3 separate regions of the Homo sapiens genome follow, and regions 2 and 3 are each linked to region 1. Evidence: fine-mapped expression QTL. A gene starts in region 1. Each other region holds a variant in brackets. All regions are shown on one strand. Distances are between the middles of the regions. Region 1 holds the start of ITGB8 (integrin subunit beta 8). Region 2 has its middle 120 kb from the start of ITGB8-AS1. Region 3 overlaps ITGB8 (integrin subunit beta 8).

The links.
Region 2: its variant is fine-mapped to the expression of ITGB8 in whole blood (TOPMed, PIP above 0.99).
Region 3: its variant is fine-mapped to the expression of ITGB8 in pancreas (GTEx, PIP above 0.99).

The regions. Positions count from the first base shown.
Region 1 is chr7:20,325,128-20,335,725 of GRCh38, forward strand. It overlaps ITGB8 (integrin subunit beta 8), which reads left to right and starts at 5,773. Exons shown (of 14, transcript NM_002214.3): 1 at 5,773-6,806. The coding sequence starts at 6,680. It overlaps ITGB8-AS1 (ITGB8 antisense RNA 1), which reads right to left and starts at 6,635. Exons shown (of 3, transcript NR_110120.1): 1 at 6,523-6,635; 2 at 4,240-4,386; 3 at 3,174-3,729. RefSeq lists enhancers at 4,394-5,006, 5,094-5,163, 5,264-5,553 and silencers at 5,634-6,023, 6,494-6,733.
Region 2 is chr7:20,448,152-20,458,749 of GRCh38, forward strand. No RefSeq gene overlaps it. Among named protein-coding and RNA genes, the nearest start is that of ITGB8-AS1, 120 kb to the left of the region's middle. The variant A/T (reference allele first, on the strand shown) is at 5,425.
Region 3 is chr7:20,377,211-20,387,808 of GRCh38, forward strand. ITGB8 (integrin subunit beta 8) reads left to right here. Exons shown (of 14, transcript NM_002214.3): 4 at 1,841-2,087; 5 at 3,456-3,621; 6 at 4,517-4,675. LOC124900239 (small nucleolar RNA SNORD56) reads left to right here and starts at 121; the gene lies at 121-191. The variant C/T (reference allele first, on the strand shown) is at 4,386.

The sequences.
Region 1 (10,598 bases):
CCAAGGAGCACAATTGCTGGATCATTTAGTTTTGTGAGAAACTGCCAAACCATCTTCCAAAGTGGCATTCCCACCAGCAGTGATGATGGTTCGGATTGCCCTATGTCCTTGTCAGCATTTGATATTACCAGTGTTTGGGATTTTGGCTGTTCTAATAGGAGTGTAGTGATACTTCATTTTAATTGGTAATTTTGATAGTTGTTTTAATATAGTCATTACATAAATGAGTTGAGGCTGCAGAAAATTAAATAAGTTACCTATGATTCTATAGCTAGTGGGTAGCAGATTCAAATTTACTTCATAAGACTCTAAAGCCCATGTGCTTTTTTGCACTGTGGTTGTCTTATAGCCAGACAAGAAAAGAATTTAAATTCATACAGGCAGGACACCAGCGGTTAGTTTCCAGTCACATTTATTGCTTGTCTTAATGTAGTTTTCTCCAGAAGAGGACCCTGACACCAGGAAATATTGGGGGTCACAGGGAAATGAAGGAAGGAAAGACAACCAACGAAGGATCTATTTGAATGCAATTATCACTGTGACCAAGTATAGCTTACTCCTACAGGGGAACTTTGGAAAATGGTGCTAAATATTACTCAAAATGTAACGTGTGGCAGTACCAGTCCTTCTACTGTTTGAGACTGGCCCAGGACAAAGAATGTATAAAAATTAAAAGTACTAAGAAACTTTTATAGCAATTTGACATTTTAGTGATACCCATTTTTCCAATAATTCATTTTTACTTTATGTTATTTAAGTATCAATCCATGATAGATTGAAAATTAAAAACTAGCTCAAAAATAGTGTAGAACACAAGGCCTAAAGTGACTTCATACAAGAAACAGGGGAGCTGGGGTATTTATACCTCACTTCCCATCTGGTTGGTGCACAGTTAAGACAGCACCCAGGAATGTTGTTCATTCCCTAGCACTTCTAGCACACAGACTTCCAGTTGTATGTGATGAAGTGGTGAGCCAGGGACATCATCTTTCTGACGATGAGTTAAAGACTAAACAAGTATTATTTTACTGCATGCTATAAAAGGATAACACTATGCACAGGGTCTGTGCACAGGATTAGACTATGCACGGATAAAATGTTTCATTCAAAAGTACCCATATTTTCTACCAAGAAAGCTGAAGATGAGAGCCCCTTCTCTCCTTTTCCCACACCCAGAAAGCCAGTGTACTAACATATGATGAAAATTCTGAAAACTAGATATTCCCAACAAGGATTTTGAATCTTGAGCAAGTGATCCAAAGCAAAGGGAGGATTCAAAGTTGTTCTTAAGAGTTAGACACTTCCTGCTACTGCTTATGCCTCCGTGTTTTCTGGCCTTGGTTAGTCGTAGTCTCCCAGCTTCCTGCTGATTCTGTGATTCTGTGGGCTCCCAATTTTCTTTCAAGAATTTCCTTTTTTTTTTTTTTTTTGAGACTGTGTGTCATTCTGTTACCCAGGCTGGAGTACAGTGATGTAATTTCAGCTCATCGCAACCTCCACCTCCAGGGTTTAAGCAATTCTCATGCCTCAGCCTCTCACATAGCTGGGGCTACATGTGTGTGCCACCATGCCAGGCTAATTTTACATTTTTAGTAGAGACGGGTTTTGCCATGTTGGCCAGGCTGGTCTCGAACTCCTGACCTCAGGTGATTCTCCTGCCTTGGCCTCCCAAAGTGCTGGGATTACAGGTGTGAGCCACCACACCCAGCCAATAGTTTCCTTTTTTACTTAGAACAGCCATAATCTGACTCTTTACTTGAAACTAGAAGTCATCACAATATGAGATAATTGAGGAGAATCAGAGCTCTGATTTCTGCCTGCTCATGAATTCCCTTGAAAAAGTGAGGTTGGTTTCTTTGCCAGTCTTTGTCTCAGTTTCCACATTTGTAAAATGGGGCTAGCTCTGTAGCATGCTTCGAGGAAAATTAATCTGTGAGATGTTCTCTCATACAGGTTTCTTCCTTTGGAGAATCTAATGGCATGCTGCTCTATTGAGTTTCCGGAAATTCCTCTAGTAAGGGATTTAATTTGACTTTAATTCAGCATTTCCCAAGCTTAATCATGGAAGTCTTGTTTCAGAAAACATTAATATCTCACAGATTGAGTCATCCATAAACTATCTTGGCAAGAGACACTGGCTCCAGCAGTTCATTTTTCTTTGAATTTGCACCTGACACTGATCTCTGTTATTAAACACTCATGAGGCCTTTAAGGAGTCTCTGTATTAACCCATTAAAGTAGGAAGTTCTTAAACTTCAGAGCATATAAAAACCATTTGAGGACCTTGGTATAATGCAGATTGCTGAGCACCATACAAGATCTACTAATTCAGAATCTCCTGGAATAGAGACAAGGAATTAGAACTCAGAATTACTCTATGGGGGATTGTGTTGTATGCAGTCTTCAGTCTACAGTATGAGAAACACTGTCTTATGTAACAATTCAGTGAAAAATACCTTCAAGCAATTTATGTACTTTATCATTAGAAGAAGCTAGAGGTCATAGTCACAATAATATATCTCACTGGTCTGACCATTAATCATCTTCTGAGATGTCTCAGGCAAGCTTATAGATAACTTGTGAATACCCACCCAAAACGTACTGAATGGCTCTGATCCCAACTTCAAAAAGATGTAACATTAAAATTCAAATGTGTCTGTAGGTGCCACTATGAGATCAATAATTTGGGCACATCTAGTTAAAGTGTGAATAGCCACAGCTGTATGTGGTGTCTTACACCTATAATCCCAGCTACACAGAAGGCTGAGGTGGGAGGATAGCTTGAGTTCAAACTTGAACCAGGAGTTCAAGGCCAGTTTGGGCAACATAGTGAGATAGCAAGATTCCATTTCTTAAAAAACAGTCTGAGTGTCTCCCTCACTCCTGCTACCTATCTATAGCTTATTCATTCTCACCATAAACTCACTTAGTGAGAAATCAAGGTTAAAGGAGTAGGGAAGAAATTTAAGTAATTTAATTTTATGACTTTTTAGTAACTCAGCTCAAAGACTCTAATGATAGGAAGCCTGGAATGAATAACTAAAATGTTATTTTTAGACTATCTGTGAATTTCATTTCCTCTCATTACCACAAATGATGAAAAATTAGCTGTCAGAAATTTCAAAGCAATATAGCAGAACATGATGGAAAAACAAATTAATCAAGTCACCATCTTCCGAAACATTTTTCCTTTATTAGAATTCTTCAGGTAATATGACGAAGATAACAATACTGCATTTCTTTAAAATATGCTGTACATTTCCTCATAGGAAAAAGGGTGAGTTATGGTGACCAGTGACATTAACTGGAAACAAGCAAACTTTTGGTTCCTGGGCCACTAGTTGTATTTACTTTAAGAAAACCCTAAAGATGATTTGCAGTCTTTCAGAGAGTTTACTTTTATGTTTACAGCCCAAAATGTGCAGATAACTTGTTTGTAAATAACTGGCAGGGGTCACAGTGTCACATCTAGGAGATTTCATTTTATTTTATTTCGACAACCAGAGTTACAGCCTCTTTACAACTGAGAAGTGGTAATAAATGGTATTGTGCTTATTCTTCAACAACTCCATAGCACTGGCACCTGACATATATTTGCATGAATTTCATGTAACAAAATGTAGAAATCTTTCTTTCTAAAGGGCTTCAAAATTTCCCGAAACAGACTTCTGAACTTCATTTTATTCCTCTTGCTACATGGTTGTTCTGGATTAGTATATATATCAACACCTAAAAACAGAGTTACAAAAATTAGTGCATACCTCATCAATTTCATAAAGTTACATCCTTTCTTGTTTGCATACATTTATATTTTATTTATTACTGTAACTGCCACTTACAACCCAGCAACAAAGAGTTGTATTTTAGAATATTATGGAATGGTGATATGATAGACACTTTAAAGTGTATTGACATGTCCTTATGGGAATTAGGGATTTAATTTTTTTTTTTTTTGATTGAAGCACTGCATGTCTCAAGGGTGGCTGCATTCAGTAGGTCTGTGACATAACCCCTGGAAAATACCCAGGCTGCCCAATGGAAGAGTCACTAATCAGATATTGAATATGATATTTTTGTGTTCAAATTTTCAAGTCCTCACACCCATCCTAACTAATTTTTAGGCCTTTCCTTTAAGACAACCAAAAAACAAAACTATAACTGTTCAAACTTGGAACTAAGGAAAGGAAATAAATATTAAAGCGGAGCTGGATTTATTTCTATTTATTTAGAGTACATCACCTCCAGTAGAATTATGTTGCTAAGGTTGGGATCACGGCTTTGGTCTCGCGAAGGGACCTGCTTTGCAGATCCAGGGCTCGTTTAATTTTCCAGCTGGGTTCCTGCTTTGCTTAACTAATCCTGTGCACCCCGTTGTGCGGTCCACACCTGAAAGGGGGAGTTTCGATGTTGTGGTTTATTAACCAGGTACTTTCCATTCACTCAGTCAACAGAAAGAAAGAGAGAGACCGCGCCTCCTACTTTTTTTTTTTTTTTTTTTTTAACTACAAATAAGGAGACGGAAACTATTAAATAAGAAGGGGGGAAACTCCCGCATATTTCACCTTGACCTGGCTGGACTGGTCTGCTGCCTCTAAGAGGCGGGTGTTGTATTAAAATGAGAGGTCAAACTCCTCGAATGGGAATCGCTCCTGCCCCTAGAGGGAAAAGAGAACCATCACCGTGTTAAACTGGAAACACTGCCTTGTTTCCAATGCGGGGGACTGAGTTCCCTCCCTCGACTTAGCGTGGTAATGACAGGACCCGAGGAGGCGCGCTGCTTCCGGGCAGTTGCCCAGCATAACACCCGCACCCTACTTGCACCTAAATTTCTGAGCTGCAAGCAGGCAGAAGTGCCTTCCACTTTCTCTCCTTAGCTCCCCTCTCCCCGCTTTGCTGCTGTCTGTAACTTTTTGTTCCGTTTACTGGGAAGGTGACGCTTAAGATCAAAAGACCCACTGTAACTTGCAAAAGCCCAGAGCCACCACCAGACGCTGGGGAAAAACAGGGCTGTCCAGTCCAGGGTTAAGGTTTTGAGCAGAGAAGGAGCAGCGAGAAATCTCGGCCAGTCGCTCCGGGAACAGCCCCTGCAGACTGGTCCAACTCTCCAAAGGCTAGGGACACCGGGGCAGCCTTGTGGTGGGGTAGAGGACGAGCTCCTAACTGCAAGCAAAGTGCTGAGTAGAGGGCGTTGGGGGCAGGGGAGGTCCCTTGACTCCACTTTGTATGCAGCAGCTGCGGGGCAGTGAGTATCTCCGAACAAAGCGGCGAGCAGCGCGGGGGTGAGAGATTGGGGTTTGCTCGCAGCTGCCGCTGGCGCTGAGCGAGTCTCCCACCACCCCCGCGAGCGTTGGGGTGCAAGGATTCGGGGGAGGAGGGAGAAGGGAACGAGGCGTGCCATTCCTGTTGCGCGGCTACGCTTCAGGAGTTCTTGTGAACGATGGGAATGGCAACTATCAGAGCCAAGGGGGAAAAGAAAGAGCTGGAGTGAGCAAAACAAAGAGCGAGTGTGGGCCGCGGTGACTTCATGCCTCACCAATGTCCCGCCCACGCTGCTCCGAGCTGTTACTGCTGCTCCTGCCCGGGCTGCAGCCGCGCCTGCGGGCAGCCGAGGCGAGGCGCTCCGGTAGCGTGGGGAGGTTTCCTAGCAACTCTCTGCCCTGAGTGCACCCGGCTACCCGCAGGTCTGGAGCCCCCCGGGGGGCCAGAGCAGGACCACCCCTCTCCCGCCCATCGCCGGCCTCGCCTCTCTCGCATCCTAGCCGTGTGCACCCCAGAGCGCGCCAGCAACTCGGGCTCTGGACTGCGGGACGCCTGAGCCGCGCACTGAGGCGAAAAGGACAAGGGCACGCAGCCCCCGCCCCGCGAAGCCGGGCTCCGGCACCTCGCGGAACCTCCCCTCCTGCGCTCGCAGCCGCAGGCCCCACTCCCCGCCAGGGAGGGAGCGGCGATGCCTCGCTCTGTGCCTGCGGGTGTCGGCGGGTGCTTCTAGGGCGCTCCCAGAGCCGCCTCCCCCTGTTGCTGGCATCCCGAGCTTCCTCCCTTGCCAGCCAGGACGCTGCCGACTTGTCTTTGCCCGCTGCTCCGCAGACGGGGCTGCAAAGCTGCAACTAATGGTGTTGGCCTCCCTGCCCACCTGTGGAAGCAACTGCGCTGATTGATGCGCCACAGACTTTTTTCCCCTCGACCTCGCCGGCGTCCCCTCCCACAGATCCAGCATCACCCAGTGAATGTACATTAGGGTGGTTTCCCCCCCAGCTTCGGGCTTTGTTTGGGTTTGATTGTGTTTGGCTCTTCGCTAAGCTGATTTATGCAGCAGAAGCCCCACCGGCTGGAGAGAAACAAAAGCTCTTTTCTTTGTCCCGGAGCAGGCTGCGGAGCCCTTGCAGAGCCCTCTCTCCAGTCGCCGCCGGGGCCCTTGGCCGTCGAAGGAGGTGCTTCTCGCGGAGACCGCGGGACCCGCCGTGCCGAGCCGGGAGGGCCGCAGGGGCCCTGAGATGCCGAGCGGTGCCCGGGCCCGCTTACCTGCACCGCTTGCTCCGAGCCGCGGGGTCCGCCTGCTAGGCCTGCGGAAAACGTCCTAGCGACACTCGGCCCGCGGGCCCCGAGGTGCGCCCGGGAGGCGCGAGCCCGCGTCCGGAAGGCAGTCAGGCGGCGGGCGCGGGGCGGGCTGTTTTGCATTATGTGCGGCTCGGCCCTGGCTTTTTTTACCGCTGCATTTGTCTGCCTGCAAAACGACCGGCGAGGTCCCGCCTCGTTCCTCTGGGCAGCCTGGGTGTTTTCACTTGTTCTTGGACTGGGCCAAGGTGGTAAGTTGTTTTGTTTTGTTTTGTTTTCTTCTCTTCCCCAAAGGTCTTGGGCTGGCACGAAGAGCTGCCCGGCCAGAGCATCCCGGCCAGGTAAGTTGCGGTCATCAGAGAACTTCAAGGGGGCGGGTGCGGGGCAGCGTCCTCCAGCACAGATGGCCTAGAGGCCAGGTGTCAAGCATTTCTGCCCTGGAGCGACAGCAAGGACTAATTATCAGAGGAGACACTCTGTGTTACTCCTAGGTGTTGAGGAAGCCCTAATAGAAAGGAATTTTGGAAAAGAGGGTGTCCTGTTTACAGAAGTCATTTAGGGGCCCTGGTCCATTCTTAAGGGCATCGTCTGTACACAATGTTCTCCCTATCTTTCTAACATTTGGGTCCACTAAGGACTAACTTGCCTTTAACTCGAGGCTGTAGATAAGTTGGTTATAATGGGAGTAGTCTTCAATTTTTGAGTCCAGAAAAAGACAGCATACAAGTTTCTGCTATCATTAGTGCTCAATCTGAATGAATTACCCACACTGGAGGGATATTAATGCTTTAAGTCATCATCCTTTCGGCTTAAAAAAAAAAAATACTATCTAATTGATCCCTCACTGAGATCAATCTCTGAGACAGAGAAGCAGAAAGAACTCTGAACCAGGATTAACAGCTTTCTGTCCAGGCAAACCATTTGTGTAAGAGCTACCTTAATGTGGAGAGGTTAACTCTTTACGAAATGCATTGTCCTCATCTGTAAAACGAGGTTTATTAATAATACCTGCCTTCTCTAAATCACAAAGGAAAGTTCAAGTCAAATAGCATATGAGAAGGTGTTTTAGGACTTTTGATTTATGAAACAAAATCAAATGTAAGGTGGTATACCAGATTGGATTGTTGGAAAATTACACAACTAAGTAATAGGACGAATCATGAGTTTAGGATGAGTTCTTAATGGTTTTCAATATAGGCCCAACATTTATTTTTGCTAATGCAGTGACTCTTGTCATACTTTCTTTTTTTTTTTTTTTAATTTCACTTTTTCTCTGTTTGGTCACCAAGTCCTTAAATTATATTAGAGCCTTTCTCTGACCTCTTGGGCTCAAGGAGAGTTTAATTAATAGTTGTAATTGTTTTGTAGGTTAAAATTTACTCCTATACTTTAAAGTGTCAAGGTTTTGCCTGAAGCTAATTAAAACAGTCAAATCATAACCTTATAAGTAGGTTTTATATATATAGATATAGAGATATATGGAAACATCCAGCTATCTTTAGGAAATTGTTGCATATACAGTTTTCTAATATTTGTTTCAGGGAGATTTGCTCAGTTATCTGAAATGGAGAAATTAGAGTAAATCTCTTTATCTTGTGGTTATTTTTTGGCTTGTTTGTTGATTTCAAAATAGTGAAAAGGCAAAGGAAAAAGTAACATTCATTATCAGTTATCTCTTAAATGGAAGAAACATGCATTTGTTGCAGCAAATTTTCCGCTAAGCATAATTTCATCCTGTTTCAATAAGTAATAAAGTGCTTTTCTAGATTTAGTAAACACACATACACACTAGTAAAATGACCAAAATTTGTGTTAACACAGTATATTTTGTTCCCAACGTACAGGCAAAGGAAAAAGTCCTACTTGCCTCTAAAATTTACTATTTAAAGTACATTTTTAAAAACCATTAACTGTGCTTATAAACATTAGTCAGGCTCTTGTGAAAAAGCATTGCATTTCTACCCAGTGTCTAAAACTGATTTGAAGGAAATATTATGAATGGGCCTACTTGCACCTGCAGACCTGAAAAGGGAATGCTTATCTGAAATCAGAACAAGGCATCCTTTTCCCAGTCTCTGTCAATATACAAAGGTTTCTGATGTATACTGATTTGCATGGCAGTTAAAAACATGCAAAAAATGTAAATTATAGCCAGTATAACTCAGAAAATTAGAGATCAGCATAAACTGCTGTACTTTTGTGATATAGCTACAAGTCTCAAATTATATGTCTTTACAGTGCAAATTAGATGCTTAAAGCAGAATAGAAATTTAGGTATCAGTTACAATGGAAATCTTGTTTCCTTGCTCAGTAGTTTACACCAGGAGAATGTTGAGGGCAATAAAGCCATACAAAAGAGACCAGAAGCTGCATAAGACCAGCATAACTTTGGGTTTAATTTTTAAAGCAGAATTTATAGGTCTCGAACATATAGTGGACTTTTAATAACAAATATATAGTGAGCAGTGGGGGATGTTATTAATCAAATCCAAAGATTTCTGATGTAGCAAAAATTATAGCAGTTTGTTTTTTAACTGTCTCTGGTGAAGATTACCCACAGCTAGAGAAATAATAGCACTGTAAAATGGTCAATAAATAACCAGAAAAACATAAAGTATATCTAGTGGTTAATATTTGAAGAGTTAATGTAGCAACATTGTTTCCACATTTACTTATTTTAAAAGATTAAGAACTTTCATTACCTAAATTTTTATATAGCAATATAAGTGTAACAAATTTCAGATATCACAGTTTCTTTTAAAAAAGCGGTAACTATTATTGCAATCAAATTTCACCTTCTGTGTATTGCAATGAAATTTCACCTTCTGTTTATTCAAGTATCAATTATTTATTATTTTCAACAACAATCAACTAGATTAACATTATTTTGTGACCATATCATTACTTCCCCTCAAAGCGTTGCATAGCATAAGTGTTCCCAGAATTATTTATGCTTACCTAAAGTGATCGGATATTTAAAAGAACCAAGGTATCATTAACAAAAAATTCAGCCTTCTAAATTATTTGCATAATAAGCTCCCAAATTAATTCTATCTTGAAGCAATGGAGACACTTTCTGATCAATTAAAAATCATACATGTTTGCCCTCTAAACTGACAGCAAAGTAGCTGATATGCTTTGGAAAATTCCTGTGCCCCAAAATAACTTCTTCTCTTGTTACCAAATTATCTGAAATCTCACTACTTAATGGATTCTTTTTGGTTAACCATGGTATTAACCCTATGATTTTTTAAAGTTTTTAACATGGTATAATGGAAATTTTCAAATGCATACAGAATTAGAGAGAATGGTATAAGGGACCACTATATACTCATCACCCAGCTTCATTAACCATCAACTCAAAGCCAACTTCTTTCATCTGTGCTCCTGCTGGTACCCAATTCACCCCCTTCTCCCAACTAAATATTTTGAAAGAAATTTTTCATATCATTTTATTTTAAAATATTTCAGTAAATAAAAATACTACTGGAGGAGGAACACACTGTAACTAATCTTAAAGCATGAATTTTTTTAAAAACTGAAACTTAGGGCAACAAGAATGTTCACAATTTTTAAGGGAAGCAATTGCAAAAGAGAAGGACACGAGGAATGGGAAAGACACAGTTTCAACCATTTACTTTTCAATAGTTCTATTATAGTTCCATTAAAAATATTTTTATTTTGAAAGTATGGATATGTAATAGCTTTTTGATACGCATGTATATGAACAGAGAAAAACAACATGAGTAAATCTGCTTCCCGTGACAAATGTTAATTGTTTTATTCCAATGGAATCACAGCAGGTATACCTTGTAAAGTTTCAGTTTCAAGGATCTGCCTGCCCTTGCATGATTAGTTTTTCTCCTATCTACTGTATCATTTAAAGCAATATCCATATATGTGGCAAAACCTTTTTATCTCCTATTTTTTCTCTCCTTTTGCTATAAGTCCTTGAAAGAGTTGTCCGTAACTCCTCTCTCCGATTCTTCTCCTCACCTTCTCTTTGAATCCATTGTGAGCAGGCTTTCTTTATCACCTCTGCA
Region 2 (10,598 bases), 120 kb after region 1:
AATTCATAAAAATAGAAAGTGGAATGATGATTGGCAGGGAATGTTGGGAGGGGTAATTGGAGATCTGTTTAATGAGTTTCCATTTTGAAAGACAAAAATGTTTTGGAGATTAGTTGCACAGTAGTGTGAATATACTTAGCACTACTGAACTATATACACTTCAAAATGCTTAAGATGGCAAATTTTTATGTTATGCGGGCTTTTTGCCACAATCTATTAAAAAGAGGTCTTTGGAGAGAAAGATCATTTGAACAAAACAATAATATGAATGATTACAAAAAATTGGCAGGGGTTGGCAGGGGTGGAGGGACAAGCCTTAAACCAAAAGAATACATTGGGCAGGGATAGAATTGGGAAGATGTAAAATAGTCACAGATCAGCAACTCTCTCAGGGCAGGTCATCACTTCATCAAGTAATAGGCCAAACGATGAGGCTGGAAATGTAGATTTGAGCCTATGTTGGACATATGTTTGTCTGCACAATACCACCTCCCCAGCTTTGAATGACCTGTCCCCCTCCCTTTCCATTCAATCTTCCTCAATCCATATGATTTGGATAGAATTAATCCCAGGCTTAAATAATCAAAGTACTCCCTTCTGCAAACATATACACACATAGGAAGAGGTCATGTAGGTTCTGCTCCAGAATTTTGTTGGCACTGTCAGAAAAGAGACTCTCTTTTCCCTTGAGATTTAAGATTCAAGTACCATGTAGACCTGGAGATGCCCCTGGACATTTTTTCCTATATAGAGAAAGCCTACTGAAAATACAGAGGAAATCAAAGGTGAAAAACAAGAAAAAATAGATAAAAGGGAAGAAAAGAAAGAAAGAAAGAGGGAAAGAAAGGAGAGAAAAGCAAAGGAAAAGGAAAAGAAACAGAGAGAAAGCAAGCAAAGAGAGAGGAAGAAAGAGATCGAGAGAAAGGGAGAGAGAAAAGGGGAAGAAATGGGAAAGGTAGGAGAGGCAAGGAGGAAGAAAAGAAGGAAACAGTACTGATTAATATTGTTTGAACATCTGAATCCAACTATGCCTAGAATCAGATCAACCCTATACTGTTCTGTTTTGCTAACCACCCTCCCCCTCCAAAAAAAAATTCCCTAGTTTGGCTTAAGCTGGCATAAGACGAGTTTTTGTCATTTGAAATCACACGAGTTCTGACTAATACAGGGCTAGATTGTGGGGATCCTAGAGAAAGGAAACAGGAAAATATGATATCAGTACTCACTTTGTCAGACACTGCACTAAGTCCCTCGGATATCACAATGAACAAAACAACTTTTTTCCCTGCCTTCATGAAACTAACAGTTTCTTAAGCCCCAGTCACATGAGTTTCATCCCTAGTTATAAGCATCTCTTTGTGGTTTTTGTTTGTTTAATGTTGAAGTCCTACTGCCAATAGTAAATCAGAGCTAGATTTGGTCTATAACAGCATATCCAAAATTTCCTGATGAAAAGAATCACCTGGGTTACTTGCTTTAAAAAGCTCAGGCCATCCCCAGCCCACATAATTAGGAGCTTTAGGGATGTGAGCTGAGAGTTTTGTTTTGTTTTGTTTTGTTTTTTTGAGATGGAGTCTCGCTCTGTCACCTAGGCTGGAGTGCAGTGGCGCGATCTCCGCTCACTGCAAGCTCCACCTCCCGGGTTCACGCCATTCTCCTGCCTCAGCCTCCTGAGTAGCTGGACTGCAGGCGCCCGCCACCTTACCCGGCTAATTATTTGTATTTTTAGTAGAGATGTGGTTTCACCGTGTTAGCCAGGATGGTCTCAATCTCCTGACCTCGTGATCCGCCCGCCTCGGCCTCCCAAAGTGCTGGGATTACAGGTACGAGCCACCGTGCCCGGTGGGAGCTGAGAGTATTTTTAAAAGTTTGAGGCCCAGGTGATTCTTATCATCAGAGAAGTATGTGAAATGCTAATCTTGTTATTCAATATACTTTCCATGGAAGAGTGGCAATGGATTTGTTAATAATGTGGCATTTCAGATCCCTCTCCAGACCTGCTGAATCAGGATAAACCTGTAATATTTTGATACAGATAGCTTGTGTTGTCTGAGATTTTTTTCCAAAAATCAGGGGCAGGGAGAAAGAAATCTGACACAGAACCTCATTCAGAAGTGCTTTCCAACAAAATCCATTTATTTCAAACTCAAGATGGCATTAACTAAAAATTAGATATCACCTGCACTGCTTTAAGCCCATTGCCAGTGATGTCACTCTCTGTGAACTGTATCTAAGGTCTAAATAGCGCATCATACAACTCTAGGAGAGAACATTGATGCTGTGTGCATGTGGATGGCACCCTCAGGAGTTGGATACTATAGCAGTCCTGAATCCAGGCCCAACTAGAGATTCATTTGGAGTCAAGCTCTGAAGACTCAACCTGGTGGCTGCTTTGAAGTCATAAGGAGACCCACCTCCATAGCCAAGATGATTGCCATCCCAACACAGCTTGTGGACAAGTCAGGACTTCCAAACACAATGTGTTCTTTTTCTTTAAGGAGGAAACGGAGATATTACAAAATAGCAAGCATGCAATAGCATGATGCAAAGCCTAATGATAAGAGAATAGTTCTGCTTTTCTTCACCCCCTTTTTTTTTTTACATTTAGTTCATCTTCTCGGAATAGAGGGACTTGTTTTCCCAGGCTCTCACAGTGACAATTTGCCATACTCATGTGTTTGCAGATGGCAGAAGCACCATCATATGGCAACTCCTAGAAGCCCTCAGCCCTATTTTGCAGAGTTGTTGAGCACATGATGCAGCTGGTAGTCCTTTGACCTCACAAGGTACCTAGTTTTAGCAGCTACAAGTGGCAGAACTACTTAAGGTACTCAGAGTAATAAGAGCCTGGACACCAGAGCCTGCCTGCCAGGTTCACAACAGACGCCACCACTCACTAGCTATGTAACTTCAAGTAAGTTACTTAACATCTCTGTGTCTCTCTTTCCTTATCCATAGAATATGAAATGGAATTTTGTCAAAAACTGTGAGGGTCTTAAGTTTTACCCCACTTGAAAACTAACAAATTAACTTGCCACGGTTTCATTAATACTGATGAAAGACATATGACTCCAGGATCAGAGACAAAATATTACTCATACCAAACACAGTAGGCAGAGTATCAGCTTGGCCGAGTCAGTTCTCTGAATCCTGGTAGTACCACAGGTCTGCTTATATGGATGCTGGCACCCAGTGTGTTGTGTTACAGCAGAGGAATACAGGTCCAGGGGAAATTGTTGCTTTATAGCAGCCTGTAAGCAAGCCTACTCTTTGTCCCAGAGGGAGACATTAGCTCATCTCCTAAGATTATCACTGCAAATATAAGCCTGAAAAGTGTCCTGGGTAAAGAGTGCTCAAAGCTTTGTATTCGTGGCATACTCAGCAAGATGAGTAAGAGTGCAGGGGGCCCATGGAAGACTGTCTCCATCAGGTTGTTGAGTGAGTTGAGTGTGTTAACATGTGCAAAGTACTAAGAAGAGTAATAATTCTTTATAAGTGGTAATAGTAGGAGTAGTATTAGTAGTAGTATGTGAATAATAGCTGTCTATTTTTTTAAGTAACCCCATGATAATAGATGTATATATCTCATACATTATATATATATTAGATTCATATACAATATTAGTAGATATAAATGTATCAGATATAATAGATATATATTAGAGAATTTTGGAAATGCAAATGAAAACAAAGAACCCACTAAAATTTCCAGTCATACCACTATCAAGTATTGTCTACTATTTTGTTTTGTTTTTTTGTTCTCCTTTGCATATATCTGTTATTTTCCTAAATTGATATACAAGTTCTTATACAATATTTATCCTACTTTCTTTTTTATTTCATTATGAGCATTTTACATTTAGTAAATATTCATTTAATACTGATTTTAATGGCTACATAATATCCCATCATATGTATGTATCATAAATTATTTACTCATTCCTTACTGCTGGATATTTTGACCGTTTCTCATTTTCTGCTAAATACCTTCTACCCCATACAGTGTTAAATTAAATGGAATTTCAATTAAAAACAACCTAAAACATAAAATTATGTAAATCTAATTCCTGAACTATAAGTCTCTCATTAGTTGGCAATGAGTTTGTCCTTTTTCTTTAAACCACATGAAACAACATCTAATTTATCCCAAGCCTGCTTAATCTGACCTAGACACTTTTCTCATTAATAGTGGATCACTATAGCAATGAGTTTTGCAAGGGTGGACTACTAACTAGTATTGTCATAGAGGCCTATATAATTTAGGAAAACAAACTCTGGAAAATTTATGCTTCTCTGTGGAAATATGTCCCCTGTCCTTCACCCATCTTCTAACTAAATAAGTAAGCAAGAGGAAAAAAAAGCAGCACGAAAACAGGTACCAAAAACACCCACACATAAAATGATAAAATGTATATATTTTCCTGTACAAGGTCACTCAAGATTAACCTAATAACTTTTACTCTAGATCTATTAATAATTATAAACAACTTTCTCGGCAGTTAACATTTATTGAATCCTTTCAACATACCAGGCTCATGTAAAAATGAGACATATTATATGTCTGATTTTAGTCTCTGCAAATTGTGAAACATTTATAAATATTGGACAAGGATTTTAAAGGTGGGCAGCATGTATATAGTCAGGCTTACAAGCAGAAAGCTGAGAAAATACAGAAGATCTATGAAAAGTATATCTGAGTTCTAAAACCATAACCATCTTAGTGTATTTAGTATATGGGCATCCACACAGGAACATCCGAAGAGAAACTTTAACTGATAAATATTCCTTCAAGTTATCAAGAAAACACTTCATTGAAGTTTACTTTGTGAAAAACATGCATTTACTCAAGATATATTTAACAAGTATTTTCACTAATGTGCATAAAGCAGTTATCTTCATTTTTTTAAAAATGCATGTATGTGGAACCAATTTTTGTATGTGTTAAGTATGTGGAACTTTTAGTCATTGCTTTGTTGAATGGGCCACCTATGTCATTCTTTCTTTCTATTTTGTTTTCATTTCATCAAATAATTAGTTCCCTTCTCTGAAATTTTTACAGTAATGGAAGACATAGCATTGGCTAATCAAATGAAATGTAAAGAACAACAATGAAGAATAAAAACCTACAACAAGATGATACTCTAATCAGAGGACATGGAAATGGAAGAAAGTGTGTGCTATGAGATGTTAGCATATATTTCCTTTGTTTATAAGCCAAATAGGATTAGGCTTCCAGAATTTTTGGAAAGAAAATTAAATCAACGGAATTCTATTTAACTGATTGGTGTATTGTTTATTGACACTGTCTCTTCTGTTCCCTGCCTTATCTCAGTTTGCTTTAATGCTTCAGTGCCTCAACAGTTCAGTTGGAGTAAGTGCCCAGCAAATGTATAAAGCCAATTAATGCAACCCAGTTACCATTCA[A/T]ATTTGCCAAGACAAAAGAAGTGTAACCTTCTTTAAGTTCTTTGGCTTCATTAAACTTCTATTTATTTAATACTTCCATTAACAGGCAATTAATTCAAATCAAACGAGTTTGGAATGAGGATAAAAGCAGAACAGCAGCAGTGAAAGGTGAGACACAAGGGCCAAACTGTGGTGCAGAAGCTGAGGAAACTCAGGTGAGGTTAGGAGAGTCTAAATTCCTCCAAAGAGGAATACACTTTCTTTCCTAAAGTGTTTTTCTTGTTTGTTTGTTTGTTTTTTTTTGAGACGTAGTCTTGCTCTGTCGCCCAGGCTGGAGTGCAGTGGTGCCATCTCGGCTCACTGCAAGCTCTGCCTCCCGGGTTCACACCATTCTCCTGCCTCAGCCTCCCAAGTACCTGGGACTACAGGCGCCCACCACCACATCCAGCTAATTTTTTTGTATTTTTAGTAGAGACGGAGTTTCACCAGGTTAGCCAGGATGGTCTCGATCTCCTGACTTCGTGATCCACCTGCCTTGGCTTCCCAAAGTGCTGGGATTACAGGCGTGAGACACCGCACCCGGCCTCTTTCCTAAAGTCTTAAGACCATCACTAGTTGAGGAAGAGGACTGACAGCGAGTGTGATGAGTTGAGAAAGCAGTCTCTATGGGCCCCGCAGTTAGGAGAGTGAAGGCAAGAAAAGGATGTTCCTGGCAACGAATCAGTCACGTCTCTTTGTGAAGCAGGCCCTAGGGATCACCCTCCCCGGAGTAGGTCCTGACAAACTATGGAGATGGGCCAAGGAACAGGAGCAGCAATAGGCTTAGAAATGGTCTCTGGAGACCACTTAAAGTCTAAAATTTTGATGGATTGAAATGCTATCATTCTGGTAGTTAAAAGAAAATTGTCATCATAAACACTAATTTGCAAATAGCAGGCACACATACCAAGACATGTACTCATTTTTGTTCCAATATAAATGAAGAACTCTTTACTGGGCAATTATATATGAGGGAAAAGTCTTTAGCCTTGAGAAGTAACAGCTCACTCAACAGTAAGATCAAAGAGTGGCATGATGTCTTCAGCACACTATTTTAATGTTTAGCCAGGAAAAAACAAATATTCTACTAATCCTTGGTTTAGTTTCAATGTGTGACTTTCAATCTGGCTTTTGAATATAATCACTCAGTTCTATCATTATAGATATAATTAAAATGATGGAGAAATTATAGATTATGATACAAAACAGAATATGACTTTGCCCTTATGTCTCAGGCACTTTATATAGGGTATCTCATTTGACTTTCACAACAAATCAGAAAAATTGAGTAAATTACTCATTGTCCAAGTTGATACAGCTTACTGGAAAAGAAGCAAAGATTTGATTTTAAGATAGTCTGGCTTCATGTTCTATCCATTCAACCATACTGCCTTCCTTCATTTCTTGACGTAAGAAGGTGAAGGATTGACACTTCAACTGGAAGAGACACAAACCATGGATTATCTTTCCAACTGAGGCATAAATGCATTTTCATAATACAAAGACATTAGGAAAATCTTTAAAGGAAGTGAGAAAAGGCCCTATCCACTGGAAAACTTTCTTGATCTTCCAAATATTTCCAAAATACTGGGGATTCCACATCCAGTCAGTAGGAACCAAATACCAAAGAACTGATTTTCCACATGGCAGGGGATTCCTCAGTCACCACCTTTATTTTCCCCTTCTCAGCACCAAGAAATATTACACCACAGAAATGTATATATGGAATATTTAAGATATAAAATGTGTATTAAAAAACAACAAATAGTCAGGGACTCACCTCCCAACTTAAGAAATACCACCTTGCAAAAATTTTGGAAGTCTCTGAGAACTGATCTTTGATCACAGCCCACTCACTCTCTCACAGAATAACTATTACTATAAATTTCATGCCTATTTCCATATATTTTTATACTTTTACTCCATCTGTATACATTCTTAAACAACATATACCATAGTTTTTTCATGTTTCCAAAACTAAATGTAAATGGGTTCATATAGTATAAATTCTTATGCAACCTATTTTTTTTTAATTAAGTTCTGGGATATATGTGCAGAACGTGCAGGTTTGTTACATAGGTATGCACGTGCCATGGTGGTTTGCTGCACTAATCAACCCGTCATCTACATTAGGTATTCCTACTAATGCTATCCCTCCCCTAGTCCCCACCCCACGACAGGCCCCGGTGTGTGACATTCCCCTCTGTGTCCCTGTGTTCTCATTGTTCAACTTCCACTTATGAGTGAGAACATGCAGTGTGTGGTTTTCTGTTCCTGTGTTAGTTTGCTGAGAATGATGGTTTCCAGCTTCATCCATGTCCCTGCAAAGGACAAGAACTCATTCTTTTTTATGGCTGCATAGTATTCCATGGTGTATATGTGCCACATTTTCATTATCCAGTCTATCATTGATGAGCATTTGAGTTGGTTCCAAGTCTTTGCTATTGTGAATAGTGCTGCAATAAACATACATGTGCATGTGTCTCTAAAGTAGAATGATTTCTAATCCTTTGAGTATATACCCAGTAATAGGATTGCTGGGTCAAATGGTATTTCTGACAACCTATTTTTTGCTTTTCCTTTTTTCTTTTTTTTTTTTTGAGACAGAGCCTCGCTCTGTTGCCCAGGCTGGAGTGCAATGTTGTGATCTTGGCTCACTGCAACCTCTGCCTCCCACGTTCAAGTGATTCTCCTCCTGCCTAAGCCTCCTGAATAGCTGGGATTACAGACATGTGCCAACATGCCCAGCTAATTTTTCGTATTTTTAGTAGAGACGGAGTTTCGTCACGTTGGCCAGGCTGATCTTGAACTCCTGACCTCAGGTAATCCACCCACCTTGGCCTCCCAAAGTGCTGAGATTACAGGCGTGAGCCACTGCACCCGACCTCTTTTTTTTTATATATCAGGATTTATAATAACATTTCCACTACATTATTCTATTGTATCAATATATACCCATTTTCCTATTTACAAACAGGATTGCTTTGCCATTACAAGAAATACTGTTCTAAATGTCCTCATCTATTTCTACACATAAGAATTTCTCTGAGCTACATTTAGAAGTGAAATTTCTGGATCAAAGGATATATGCACCTTCAACTTAACTAGACATTAAAAAAGGAGTTGTACAAGTTCACAATCCCTCTCTCTTCCCATTTTTTCAAACAGATACTACCAAATATAAATTTCTACTCTAACAATGTTTGGTTCCAAGTGAATCATCATTCCAGCAGACATTTTTTAAAGTTTGCTTGCCTTTTTCTCTACAATTATGTTCCACCTCCTCAACCCAAGTAATTAGCTAAGGTAATCAGGCCAGAGTCCAAGCTGATTACCAGTAATTAAATGTAGCTTTTCTTATCTTCAGTGTGTCCATACTGAAAAATAAAGATATCTTTCCTCTTCTTGAGGGCAATTTGGCAGTATCTGCCAATAGCTCTAAAAATTGCTTACTCTCTGACTCAGAGATACCTAAAAATTTACTTTAAGAACATATCCAGAGGTATACATGAATATTTGTATATTAAAATATTTGTCTTAGTGTTAATTTTGATGTTCATTGCAATGCTGTTGGTCCAAACAAGCAAAATGTCCATCAGGTAGGAACTAGTTAAATAAAAGGTTGTATATATTCACGTAATTGCCCACTAAGTGGAAATTAAGAAGAATGAGGAGGATACATATGTACCAACAATATTGTTTTAGTTATTGATTGCTATATAGCTAAACATTCAAGTGTAAAGCAATTACTTATTATGTTTCACATGCCATAGAAAGACTAGAGGTGGTCTTCTGTTCCTTGTGCCGTTGTCTGGGGTCACTCATAGTGCTGCATTCAGCTGGCAGCTGAAATGGGGCTGGAACATCCAGGAAGACTCACTAACACATCTCTCAGCCGGTTGCCACCTGGAACAACTTCGGTTCCTTTCCATACAGATTCCCCTCATTCAGAAGGCTAGAACCACTTCCTTACAGCATGGTAGTGGGTTTCAAGAGGGAATGAACCAAGAGAACAAGCCCTAGCTTACAAATTCCTGTCAAGTCCCTGCTTGCATCAAGCTTACTAGTGTTTCACTGGCCAAAGCAAGACAGACAGATGGCCAAGCCCAGACACAATTTGGGAGAAGACTGTACAAGGGTGCATATTCCAGGAGGCATGGTTTTTTGGGGATCATCAGTTTAACAGTCTACCGCAATTACTGTGAAAAAAGAAAAAGAAGAGTAAAATAGGATAACCATTGTTTTAAGTGTTTGCACAGAAAATATGTGGAAGAATACATATCAAATAGTGTTTGAAACAGCGGAGTGAAATTTGCATGGGAAGTAGTAGTAGGAAACGTGAGATTTTTAAATTCATGTATGTATGTGTGTTTCTTGATTTTTTATAATAATCATATACCTAAATATCCATATACATATATTTATATATATAAGAGACAGGGTCTCACTCTGTTGCTCAGGCTGGAGTGCAGTGGTTGTAATGAGCAATCACAGCTCATTACAACCTTGAACTCCTGGGCTTGAGTGATCCTCCTGCCTCAGCCTCCTAAGTAGCTGGGACTACAGGTGGGTGCCAGCACACCCAGCTACTTCTTTTTTTTTTCGTAGAGACGGGGTCTCACTATGTTGCCCAGGCTGGTCTCAAATTCCTGACCTCAAGTGATCCTCCCACCTTGGCCTCCCAAAGTGCTGGGATTACAGTTGTGAGCCAACATGTTCAGCCTAATAATCATGTGTTTATAATTTTAAAACTATGAAAGAAAATGAGGTTGTAGAAGAATAATTATATAGGAGAATGTTTATAATATGTCCATTTAAAAAATGTTAATGGTTATTTTAGAATAAGGAATTGTGAGCAACTGATTCTCTTCATCATGATTTTCTGTAACTTCTATACTTTGTATAAGAAATACACACAAATCTTAAAATCAGAGAAAACAATAAAGAGGAAATAGAACCAACTCAAACCACTGACCATATCTTTCTTATTCCCCACACAGGTATTTCCACATTATTGCAACATCATTTTGTTGACATATTATATTATCAAGATGTTCACATGTCTAGCTGTAATAAAATAAAAATTTCCCAGTGACTTTATGTGCTAATCTATTCTCCATCGTGTTTTGCAACTTAATAAGATCATGAAGCAACTG
Region 3 (10,598 bases), 52 kb after region 1:
CAGTACCTCTGAAAACAGCCATTTATCTTTAGACAGAGCCACCATAAACTGCAACGATTCACCAAGATAAAAATACCATGATACCATGTGGCCGGTTTACAAAAACAATCTTTTTTAAATCTACAAAGATAGCAACACTTTTCATCAACAGCAGTTCACCTAGAGAGAGTCGACACTTTTTGTCTGAGTGAAAAACAAAACCAAAAAAACGCTGATCCACACATCAAGGTTCAAGTCCCTGAACATGAACCGCTCTCCCAGTAGTGTTGAATTTCTACTTCTCATCGATCTGGCCCAGTGTACCAGTGTCTAACATTCCCCTGAATTTAATTTCTCCACTCAAATTGCAGAACACTGCCACAGGAACAGTTCTTTCTGTCAACAGAAGCCCAAAAGCAGAGCAGAATATAGGATATGCTCTCAGGAGGCAGCCTAGCTTCTGAAGGCAAGGGATGAGAGAATGGACTGGGCTGGGCCATGTGTGCCCTATTTCTCCTTTCAAATATGGGCCAAAACCTAGGAGCATTACACTAAAGGGGTTGCCTGCACAGAAAAAGCAAATTAGGAATGAGTAGTCCCTTTCTCCATAATTATTATTATATACCAGCAAAACCTTATTATTTTGAATACAGTAGGTAATTTGGCTGAAAAACATCTGATTTGTGAAATAATCGAAAAGAAAATATTGCTATTTTATGCTAACACCAAAAATATAATTTGATAAATTAGAAGGTTCTTTAAATAGGTAAATTATGTATACAAATGAATGTTTATTTTAAAAATGTTTTCCATTCGGAATATTCTTATGGAAAAATAATGACTTACAAAGCATTTACTTAATAGTTTAAAAAAGTAAAATTTACAAATTACAAATTGCTTACATTTAAATAGATGCCTTTTCACCATATACTTGAAATTAAAAGTAGAGGTACCAACTCTATAGAGGGTTAGGGGGGACAACCCAAGTCCTTGTATCAAATAGTAATATGACAGAGAACTAAATAAAATTGTAGTTCCCTGCGGGGACTACCGACATTTGTCCTTGTGGCAGCCCCCTCTCCTCATCCAGTTGTTTTGCCCAAGGTGGGTGCCTCGCTCATGGGCCCCCTCCTCAGCATGTGTTCATTGAACACCTACCGTGTGTTGGACAAATGCTGACCCCTACCTTCCCCAGGTCCTCCATGTGGCACTGCAGGGCACCATTCTTTAGCCCACTGTCTCATTCCTTCACTTGGCTAACTGATGGGAAGAATCTTACCAACTAACTAGTGATGAGGTACTAATTATTTTGAATAGCTTGCTGTACTACACAGTACCAGAGTTTTCTCATCTCCTGTGTAAATACACTTTAACCCAAAGGAATAAATTTATGCCTTTATCCAATAGGAGATCACCTTTTTTTAAAGATACCTTCCCAGTTTTCCTCAAGTCATTCCACACGTACATCCCCCTCACTGTCTTGAGATCGAATGCCGCTTGCTGGTTTGCACTGTGTTTTTCTAGCTACTAAGGCAATGGAGGTTCATATAATGATACAATACCCTGTTACATTTATATGGAGCTGGCCCATTTGTTATTATCCCTATTCAGCCTATAGAATTGTGGGAAATGAACTGTAGGATTTGGAGACCAATAAATTGGTATGGTTTTCAAATTGCCTTATAATTATACTAGAATAATAATTATACTATAATTATTATAATTACACTAGCATATTCCAAATTTTATGTGCAAATTTGTGATGATTGTGCTAGGTGCTAGAATGTGACTAATTTATTAAGAGCTTATCCTGAAAAGTTTAAAATGAAGACTACATGATGTTTTTCTTCTATTGAACTAGGAGCCGAAGCTAATTTTATGCTGAAAGTTCATCCTCTGAAGAAATATCCTGTGGATCTTTATTATCTTGTTGATGTCTCAGCATCAATGCACAATAATATAGAAAAATTAAATTCCGTTGGAAACGATTTATCTAGAAAAATGGCATTTTTCTCCCGTGACTTTCGTCTTGGATTTGGCTCATACGTTGATAAAACAGTTTCACCATACATTAGCATCCACCCCGAAAGGATTCATAATCAATGCAGGTATCTAGGGTTTGATGTGGATATGCTAAATTAATTTTTTGCTTATAAAATCTCACTTTGTTTTTAATGTAAAGAACTTACCAAATTTTATATTTTTATCTTATAAAATAAGAATAAAAATATTTGGTGAGGTGGGGAGGTTTCTTCATATCTGAAAACTTCTGAGATGAACTGTAGATTGGGCTTTTTATTTTATATTTCTTTAAATATTTAGTCAGTTTTTATCACCAAAAAAAACAAAAAAACAAACAAAAAACCCTACCTAATGTTAGTAACTTTGAATGAAGCTTCAATAGTTAGGCTGCCATGTATATAAATACCTCTTTGGAAATTCTGTATTTTTATTTTTTGATTGCTCCAAAATTGCTGAATTATGATTTGACACATTTTAAAGAGTTTGTGCCAACACGTCATCTATCTCTCCATTACTGTACTGTGACTGGGGATAATGATGTTGTCTCCGATGTGACTACAAAGAAATCTCAGTTATCACAAAGAAAGTGGGTCAAAAGATGAGAATTTGATTGCTTAGAAAGAGCCTTTTTTCTTATCATTTTAGATTTCTGATTCTAAATAACATATGTCCCACTATGAAAGAAGAATTAGCCTTAAAAATACAAGTGTCTCACACAATATTGCCATTAGCCTGTGGAATTTTCAGAAAAATAAATCTGTATGGATCTTTTTTCACAAAAGACTTTATCTTTCTTGCTTCTACAAATTGCTTAGATTACTTTACAATACACATTCCAATTTACCGAAACAGCTCTGTCATCTGTTGTACCGGAACAGGATTGATGCATCCATCAATGGAGTTTCATAAGCCTTCTTGAGGTGAATGTACAGGAGGAATCATTCTTACTTTCTGGGTATCATAGATTCTCAAAATAATTTTAATGAATATTGATTGTTCATCAATAATTCCACCAAGCATCACTTTAAAAATTAGTGCAGTATTAAAAAAAACTAATATCATATTTCAACTAAATTCCTCAAAAGCATTTTCCAGAAGTGTTTCTCAGCTGTTCAATGATAAGAAATCACTGCACATTCTTATATTCACCTTAAAAATTCACAGCGCAGATTAAATATTGAAAGCCTTTAACTGTCCTATATTAAAAAACATGTTTAATCATCTTTATTTTTTTGAATACCAAATGCTTATAGTCTTATTTCCTATTTGCAAAGAAATTGTCATCAGCATTGAGCTTATCTCTAATTTTATAAGCATAGATTTTCGTCGTATAAAGTTTCCCTGGCACAAAAGAAGTACTCCCTTTTCACACAACTGTACAATTTTACTGTTAAGTATTCCAGAATGCTTAAGAAGAGCAAAATAAACTTTACACTTCTTCTTTTCCCACACAGTGACTACAATTTAGACTGCATGCCTCCCCATGGATACATCCATGTGCTGTCTTTGACAGAGAACATCACTGAGTTTGAGAAAGCAGTTCATAGACAGAAGATCTCTGGAAACATAGATACACCAGAAGGAGGTTTTGACGCCATGCTTCAGGCAGCTGTCTGTGAAGTAAGACGTTTCACATGATCGAGTGTTTGCTAAGATGCCAAACTTTCAAAGAATTTAGACGTTTTATTTTCTCTTTGATTTGTGGAGTGAAAACGTAGTGTAGAAGAAAACATATCTTACTATCTCTTACTCCTCACCAAGGTGATTCATTTCGGTATGTGTTTGGGACAGAGGGGCTAAATTCAGGGAGGGATTTAAATAGGAAAAGACAAAAGGGAAAGAATAGGTTATGAACGCGAAAATTCTTTCCAAAAGGGCTGCTTTTCTCATGCGCCACACTCCAAGGAGGAACTAGAAGTAGACTGTTGCCCTCCTCACTTCAGCTTGTTCTCCTACTTTTTTTTTTTTTGAGACGGAGTCTCGCTCTGTCGCCCAGGCTGGAGTGCAGTGGCGCCATCTCGGCTCACTGCAAGCTCCGCCTCCCGGGTTCACGCCATTCTCCTGCCTCAGCCTCCCGAGCAGCTGGGACTACAGGCGCCCGCCACCACACCCGGCTAGTTTTTTGTATTTTTAGTAGAGACGGGGTTTCACCGTGTTAGCCAGGATGGTCTCGATTTCCTGACCTCGTGATCCGCCCGCCTCGGCCTCCCAAGGTGCTGGGATTACAGGCATGAGCCACCGTGCCTGGCCTCTCCTACTTTTTAATCTATATTGTTCTTCCTCCAGTGGAACACTAGAAATCTCTAGCCAGGAACTAGTGTGGTCACATGGCTGTGGGAAAATAGAGGATGTACAAATAAAAGTTAAAGCTATTTACGCAGCAG[C/T]GTTGTACCCACGCACATCGTTCTAGCCTGACTTACTGTTCGTCAACTCAAACGTAATGTTTACTTGAGGTAAAAACCACAGTACACATCTGTGTTATTGTACAAAGTCTAATTACATGTTTATTTTTAAGAGTCATATCGGATGGCGAAAAGAGGCTAAAAGATTGCTGCTGGTGATGACAGATCAGACGTCTCATCTCGCTCTTGATAGCAAATTGGCAGGCATAGTGGTGCCCAATGACGGAAACTGTCATCTGAAAAACAACGTCTATGTCAAATCGACAACCATGGTAATGCAGCAGTAACCGCTTAGTAGATATGACTCTTTTGGTTAAAGTACAATTTTAAATTGGCAACTCAACTATTTTTGTACCAGGAAATTACCTACAAAAGAAAGATACAGAACAAGGATAAGCCATGAGAGAGAATTTATGGAACAGTGCAATCTATAAATACTGATCAATAAAATATATGAATAAAACAGTTTGACAGTTTCTAGTAGCTGACTCTTTGATGAATGACAAAGCACTGTATAATTTTTGAAAATAAAAATGATACAAGATTTTACTTTTTATGTAATTCTAAGACAGGGGAAAAAAGTATACCTTTGCTTTATACAAATAGACCAGGTCTACGGGGTCGATATCTACAAACATTTTAAGGAGGAAACCTCACAGTACAATAGGTAGAAACTAAATAGAAACCAGGGAAAAAAGACAAGAGAGAAAGAGAGTCAAACAAAGCAGGCTTTCTCTGTTTTGTACTTTACCTCTCTGCATCTTATCTATTTAAGGTCTCTTTTTAAATCAGTGACTATCTGGCTTGCTTCCTGAGGGTTAGTATAAGCTCTGAATCATATATTTAATATAATCACCTAGAACCATATCTTCCCTGGCATTATCTAATTCTAGTTGTGAAGAATCAACAGTCCAAAGCATCATTTACTTCTGATGTTGACACTTATTTATATATTCTTGCATATGTTAAAACAGAACCTCTCCAACTTTCTCAGTTCATGAGACCCTAGTCTCTCAGTGATTTTATTCCATGACACCCGTGGGTCAAAAGAAATACCTAATAGTTCTGTTTTTTTAAGTGGTTAAGTCCAAATAACTCAACTATTTATGTCTTAACAACTTAGTATCTCCTTAAAAATAATACAAATGTATCAAGTGTAGAGATACATGTTTCAGTTTTAGTAAGTAACTTCAGAAATTTTCAAATCCTGAAATCAGATTGGTCATCACTACCCTGATTTCTTCTTCCGTGTTGATTTTCAAGTTGACCAGCTTGGTAAAGATTAATGTCATTTAAAAGAATAGAACGAAATGTAATCTTAAAACTATGAACTCCCTCCAACTAGTTCTTCATTGGTACCTGATACATGCTGAATGTCACTGTATTTCTCTTGAAGATTTAAATTATTTCCTGCCACCCTTGGGAGTGTGCTGCAGTGCACCAAGACACCTCACACACAGTTTGGGAATCACAGTATCAGAAGCATGAAAATTATGCTGAAATTTGTGTGGTTCCCATGGGTAAATTTTAAGTAGATCACCAGTTCATCTGCAATACCCTACCAGATCTGTTGAAATTCTAGAGTGGCAATTGTATTACCATATGAAACAGGTTCAACACTTGGTCATTTTAGTTTCTTGAAAGTAGTATCAAAATATAAAGATTTTAAAAGGTAACTAGAGATTGAATTCAAAAATTCAAGAATTGGAGTTATTCCAATAGTGTCTTTCCATAATTCTCTTCTACTCAGCCTTATTTCACTTTGACAGACCCACCTACTTCTACTTAGTCATTTCTTATCTATCTTTCCTTCTATTTAACCTCTTTTGATTGATGGTAGAGTTCTAATTTATTTATTGGGGAGTAGGAGAGGGTACAGGAAGAATTATTCTATTGTGAGACAAAGAGAAGGTTTTTATTTTTTTAAGAAGAAAATAACAATGACATTATTCTCAAATTGTATTATTCTTTTGAAGTTTTGCCAAGTCACTGAAGTCATCTCTCCATAATTGTATTTAAAAGGATACTATTGCTCATCTAGGGAGGATTTCCTAGGCAAAGAAATGCTGTCATAATTTTAGGCATATACCATGTTATAGAACCTTATGGAAATAAGTTATAAGTCCAGTGGAATTTTAGATAGGGCTTGGATTCTTATGACATCAGGAAATTGGATGATTACATCAAGACCTTTTACCTTCTTGGTCATTGTTCCCAGTATTTAAAGGAGTGACCCTTCCACATGTCACTGCTGTAGTATATTGAGTAATCCAAGGAATAATGTGTTTGTTAACACCTTAGAAGGATACTTTTATTTTATTTACCCCAGGTCTTTGTTTTAAAGGATTATCTTCCTAAAAATTCTCATTCCCTTCATTTGTAGGGTCACTGCCTACATATTAGGTAAAAGAAGCTGAAGCATTTTGATTGATCCCTTGGCCATGAATTTATACATTCAAGATGTGCTCCTGCTTTGGAATGTTCTATATTGAAAGCTACCTTGACTTTGACTCTAGGCATATTTATTTGTGCATTTCAAAATGACCTCTATCCTCCCCTATTTGGCCATTATGGAGGAATTTTAAATTTTGTTTAAGACAAGTAATCAAACACTTTGCTTCTTGGCTTTATCTCCAGCAGCCAATGCCAATAATGTTGAATGGTATCTGAGTTTCTTGATTCAAGAGTCTTGGGGTTTGTATTTATAAAAGGAAACAACTGATTAAAAAACCCTTTATATGTCTAAATTACATGGGACAGAGTTCTGTTGCTTATACATATAGCTATTTCCTGAAGGTCAATGTGAACCCTAGACTAATAACAACTGCCATTTTATTGAGTATGTATTCAACTGAAAGCACTGTAGCAATCACTCTGCATACAGCATCAAATTTATCTTTACAACAACTCTATAAGGTAGTCATAATTAGCCTCCTTTTACAAACAGCAGGACTGAGGGTCAGAAAAGCTAAGTAAGTTGCCTGAGAATAAACAGCTAAAACATTAATAAATTGCAGAGTTGGCCCTAGTCTGTCTCAATCTTATATTAAAATCTGCATTCTTTACTTTGCCACAGTCTGTCGACTGAAATGCAGAAGAAAAAGAAAAATAATGTTCTTGTTGTCATTTCTTGTCTTTCTGGTTGCAGTCTTATGAAAGTATAACCAGATGATTTGACTTGCATAAGTTGTAAAACAACATATAAAATAATTTATATTTACACATTGTGATATTTGTATATGGTTGCTGGCAAATGATGTTACACTATTGAATAAATTACATTTTCCACTGCTTTTTCATCAAGATCAAGTGCCAGAATAAAAAACTGTAGCAATAGTATAGTTTTATGATTTATCCAGTGATAATGACAATTTGAAATGTGACATTCTTTCTAAAATGGCAGATGTTAATACAAAAATTATTAATGATGTAGTAGACTATTAATACTGAGGGTTTGGAATTTCACCCTGTCTCCCCACCCAGCTTCTCCAGGGTTATTTCTACCCTTAGTCAGAGCCCTCCCAGAAACTGTTCACCCACCCCTTGGTGGAGGCCAAGAATAGCATGAAGGTCTTCAGTAACAATGAAAGAAGACCAAGGAACAAGTATGTGGAGGTCATCCAATGAACCTTATCAATGGGATTTTCAGATGTTGATGTGACTCACAGTTTTAAATAGCGAGATTCAAATTGGCAAGATCCTACCACATTCCTATTGTATGTACTAGTGCATACCATATATTCACTAGTATTTACTGGTTTAGGCTTGGTGTTTTTCCATGCAGCCTTTTATATGCCTCATCACATTATGGCCAGTGATTCTTTATCCCTCCTATCATATACCTCCTCAGAATCCCCTTACTGCTGGCTTCATAGTTCATTCCTTTTCCTGCAGGCTCATTTGGATAGGCTAGCTGCTGAGTCGATCAGCATCTTATAGCATGGAGGCAGAATTGCAGAAGGCCTATCAGGCATTAAACAGTTTTGCTTTCTCACTGGCAAAAATAGTCAACACTGTGCCTCTCCTCATGCAACTTTAACATGTACTTGACTTTTAAGTATGCCATTTAGGAAGCTTTCTTTTTACTATGAATCTTATCTACTTGGAATTATACTTAATTTTTCCAGGACTGCAGATGAATAAAGAGAGCTTAAGAAGCTACTTTGCTAATGTAATCCATAACTTTGCTACCTGAGTTAACAAACGTTCATAACACTATTACATTTATTCTTTCTGAAAGGGATATTTCTGACATTTTCAAAGTCTGGAAAACATTTATAACTAATGTTGAGATCAGACAGAATTCCATGTGAGGAGATAATTGTGATCTTTTAATAAAGAGATCTGTTAATTTTGTTTGCTGTTTCCCGACAGAGACGTGGCCTTTTCTACTTCAGAAAATGTTAAATCTTTTTCTGCTTCTCAGGTTTGTCTCAGATGCATACTAATAAAAATGCAAATTCATGGAACACTTATTTTGTGCCAGGTATGGAATACAACTAGAAAGTTTTAAGTCCATGTGCAGCTTTTAAAAACGATTGTTCCATCTTTTGGGGCATCGAAAGACTACAAAGTACCTGATTTCAGCTTGCTGAATGATCTGCTTCAAATTGTAAACACTATGAGAACATTTTTTTTTTTTTGAGACGGAATCTCACTGTGTCGCCCAGGCTGGAGTACAGTGGCACCATCTTGGCTCACTGTAACCTCCGCCTCCCAGGTTCAAGCGATTCTCCTGCCTCAGCCTCCCGAGTAGCTGGGACTACAGGCGCGTGCCACCACACCTGGCTAATTTTTTTTTTTTTTTTTTTTTTTTTGGATTTTTTAGTAGAGACGGGGTTTCACTGTGTTAGCCAGGCTGGTCTAAATCTCCTGACCTCATGATCCACCTGCCTTGGCCTCCCAAAGTGCTGGGATTACAGGCGTGAGCCACTGCGCCTGGCCTGAGAACATTTTAATAGTAATTTTATAGGAGAACTAATTTGAATGCTTCTCATATTCTCAAAAAGAGTGGCCTGGAAAGGATTTCTGCAAACAATATTTAGTAGGAATTGTTTTAATTGAAAGCAAAATTGCATGTAGAAATCACCTGTGCCAGACTCAAAGTAGCCTGGCTCTGCTTGTGTAATGCCTTTCAAATGGGGTAAAATTATGGTTTGCAAAAGTGACACAATAAAATTCAACTTTGATAAAAATTTTTATAGAATGGAATATTCTCATTAAATTAGATGTTGTAGGTAAGTCATACTTAAGCAGAAAGCTTTTTGTTGCCATTATTATTGAAAAACTTACAAAAATCAATGCATACCCTTCTTCAGTAAATAGGGTATCGTGATTACAACTGATGTCATATTTGCCAGGAGCCACAAACTCAAACATCTGCAGGGCCAGGTAAGAAAGATAAGCAAGTGACATAGGTCAAGGAAAGCACATCCAAGAGCATATCTTGCCTTTAGGAAAGGCCTCCAAATCTCTCTTATTAAGCAGTCATTTGTTAAAAACTGTCTTTTCTTGAGCAGACCTATGGTGTTTGTCTCTTTATGTTCAGTTAACAGCATTCAACATTCCAGTGAAATGTAGATATTGCTTTACTTCTACTTTATAAATGAGGAGGGAAAAAGGTGCTAAAGAGATCAGCATCTTGTCTGGAATCACACACCCTTATATAGCAGTGTCCATAGTAGACTTTAAGCTGTTTGACATGAACCGCTACTCATCATTGGTCTTAATAATTACAGAACAGTAAGTGAAGGCTTTACGAAGTTAACCTATTTAATCTCCACCATCTGAGTGGTAGATACTAGTGTTTATACCTGCTTTACACCTATGGAAACTGAATCCCAGCAAGGTTCAGACAGCTGCCCAGTGTCACATAGCTAGTAGTCGCAGAGCCAGAAGTTGAAGCCCAGATGATCTGTTTTCAGAGCCCCTGCTGGTGGTGTGGTTCTCAACTGGAGTGATTTTACCCTCCAGAGGACAATTTCATCAAGTTATGACATTTTGACTGTCATAACTGTGGAAAGAGGGTGCTACTGGCACCTGTTGTGTTGAGACCAGGGTGCTGTTAAACATCCTACAATGCACAGGACAGCCCCTTTGTCAAATAAAAAATATATCCAGCCCAAACTGTCAATAGCACTACTCTTGAGAAACCCTGGTCTATGCAGTTATCACAGTGCAACTATGTAGATACAA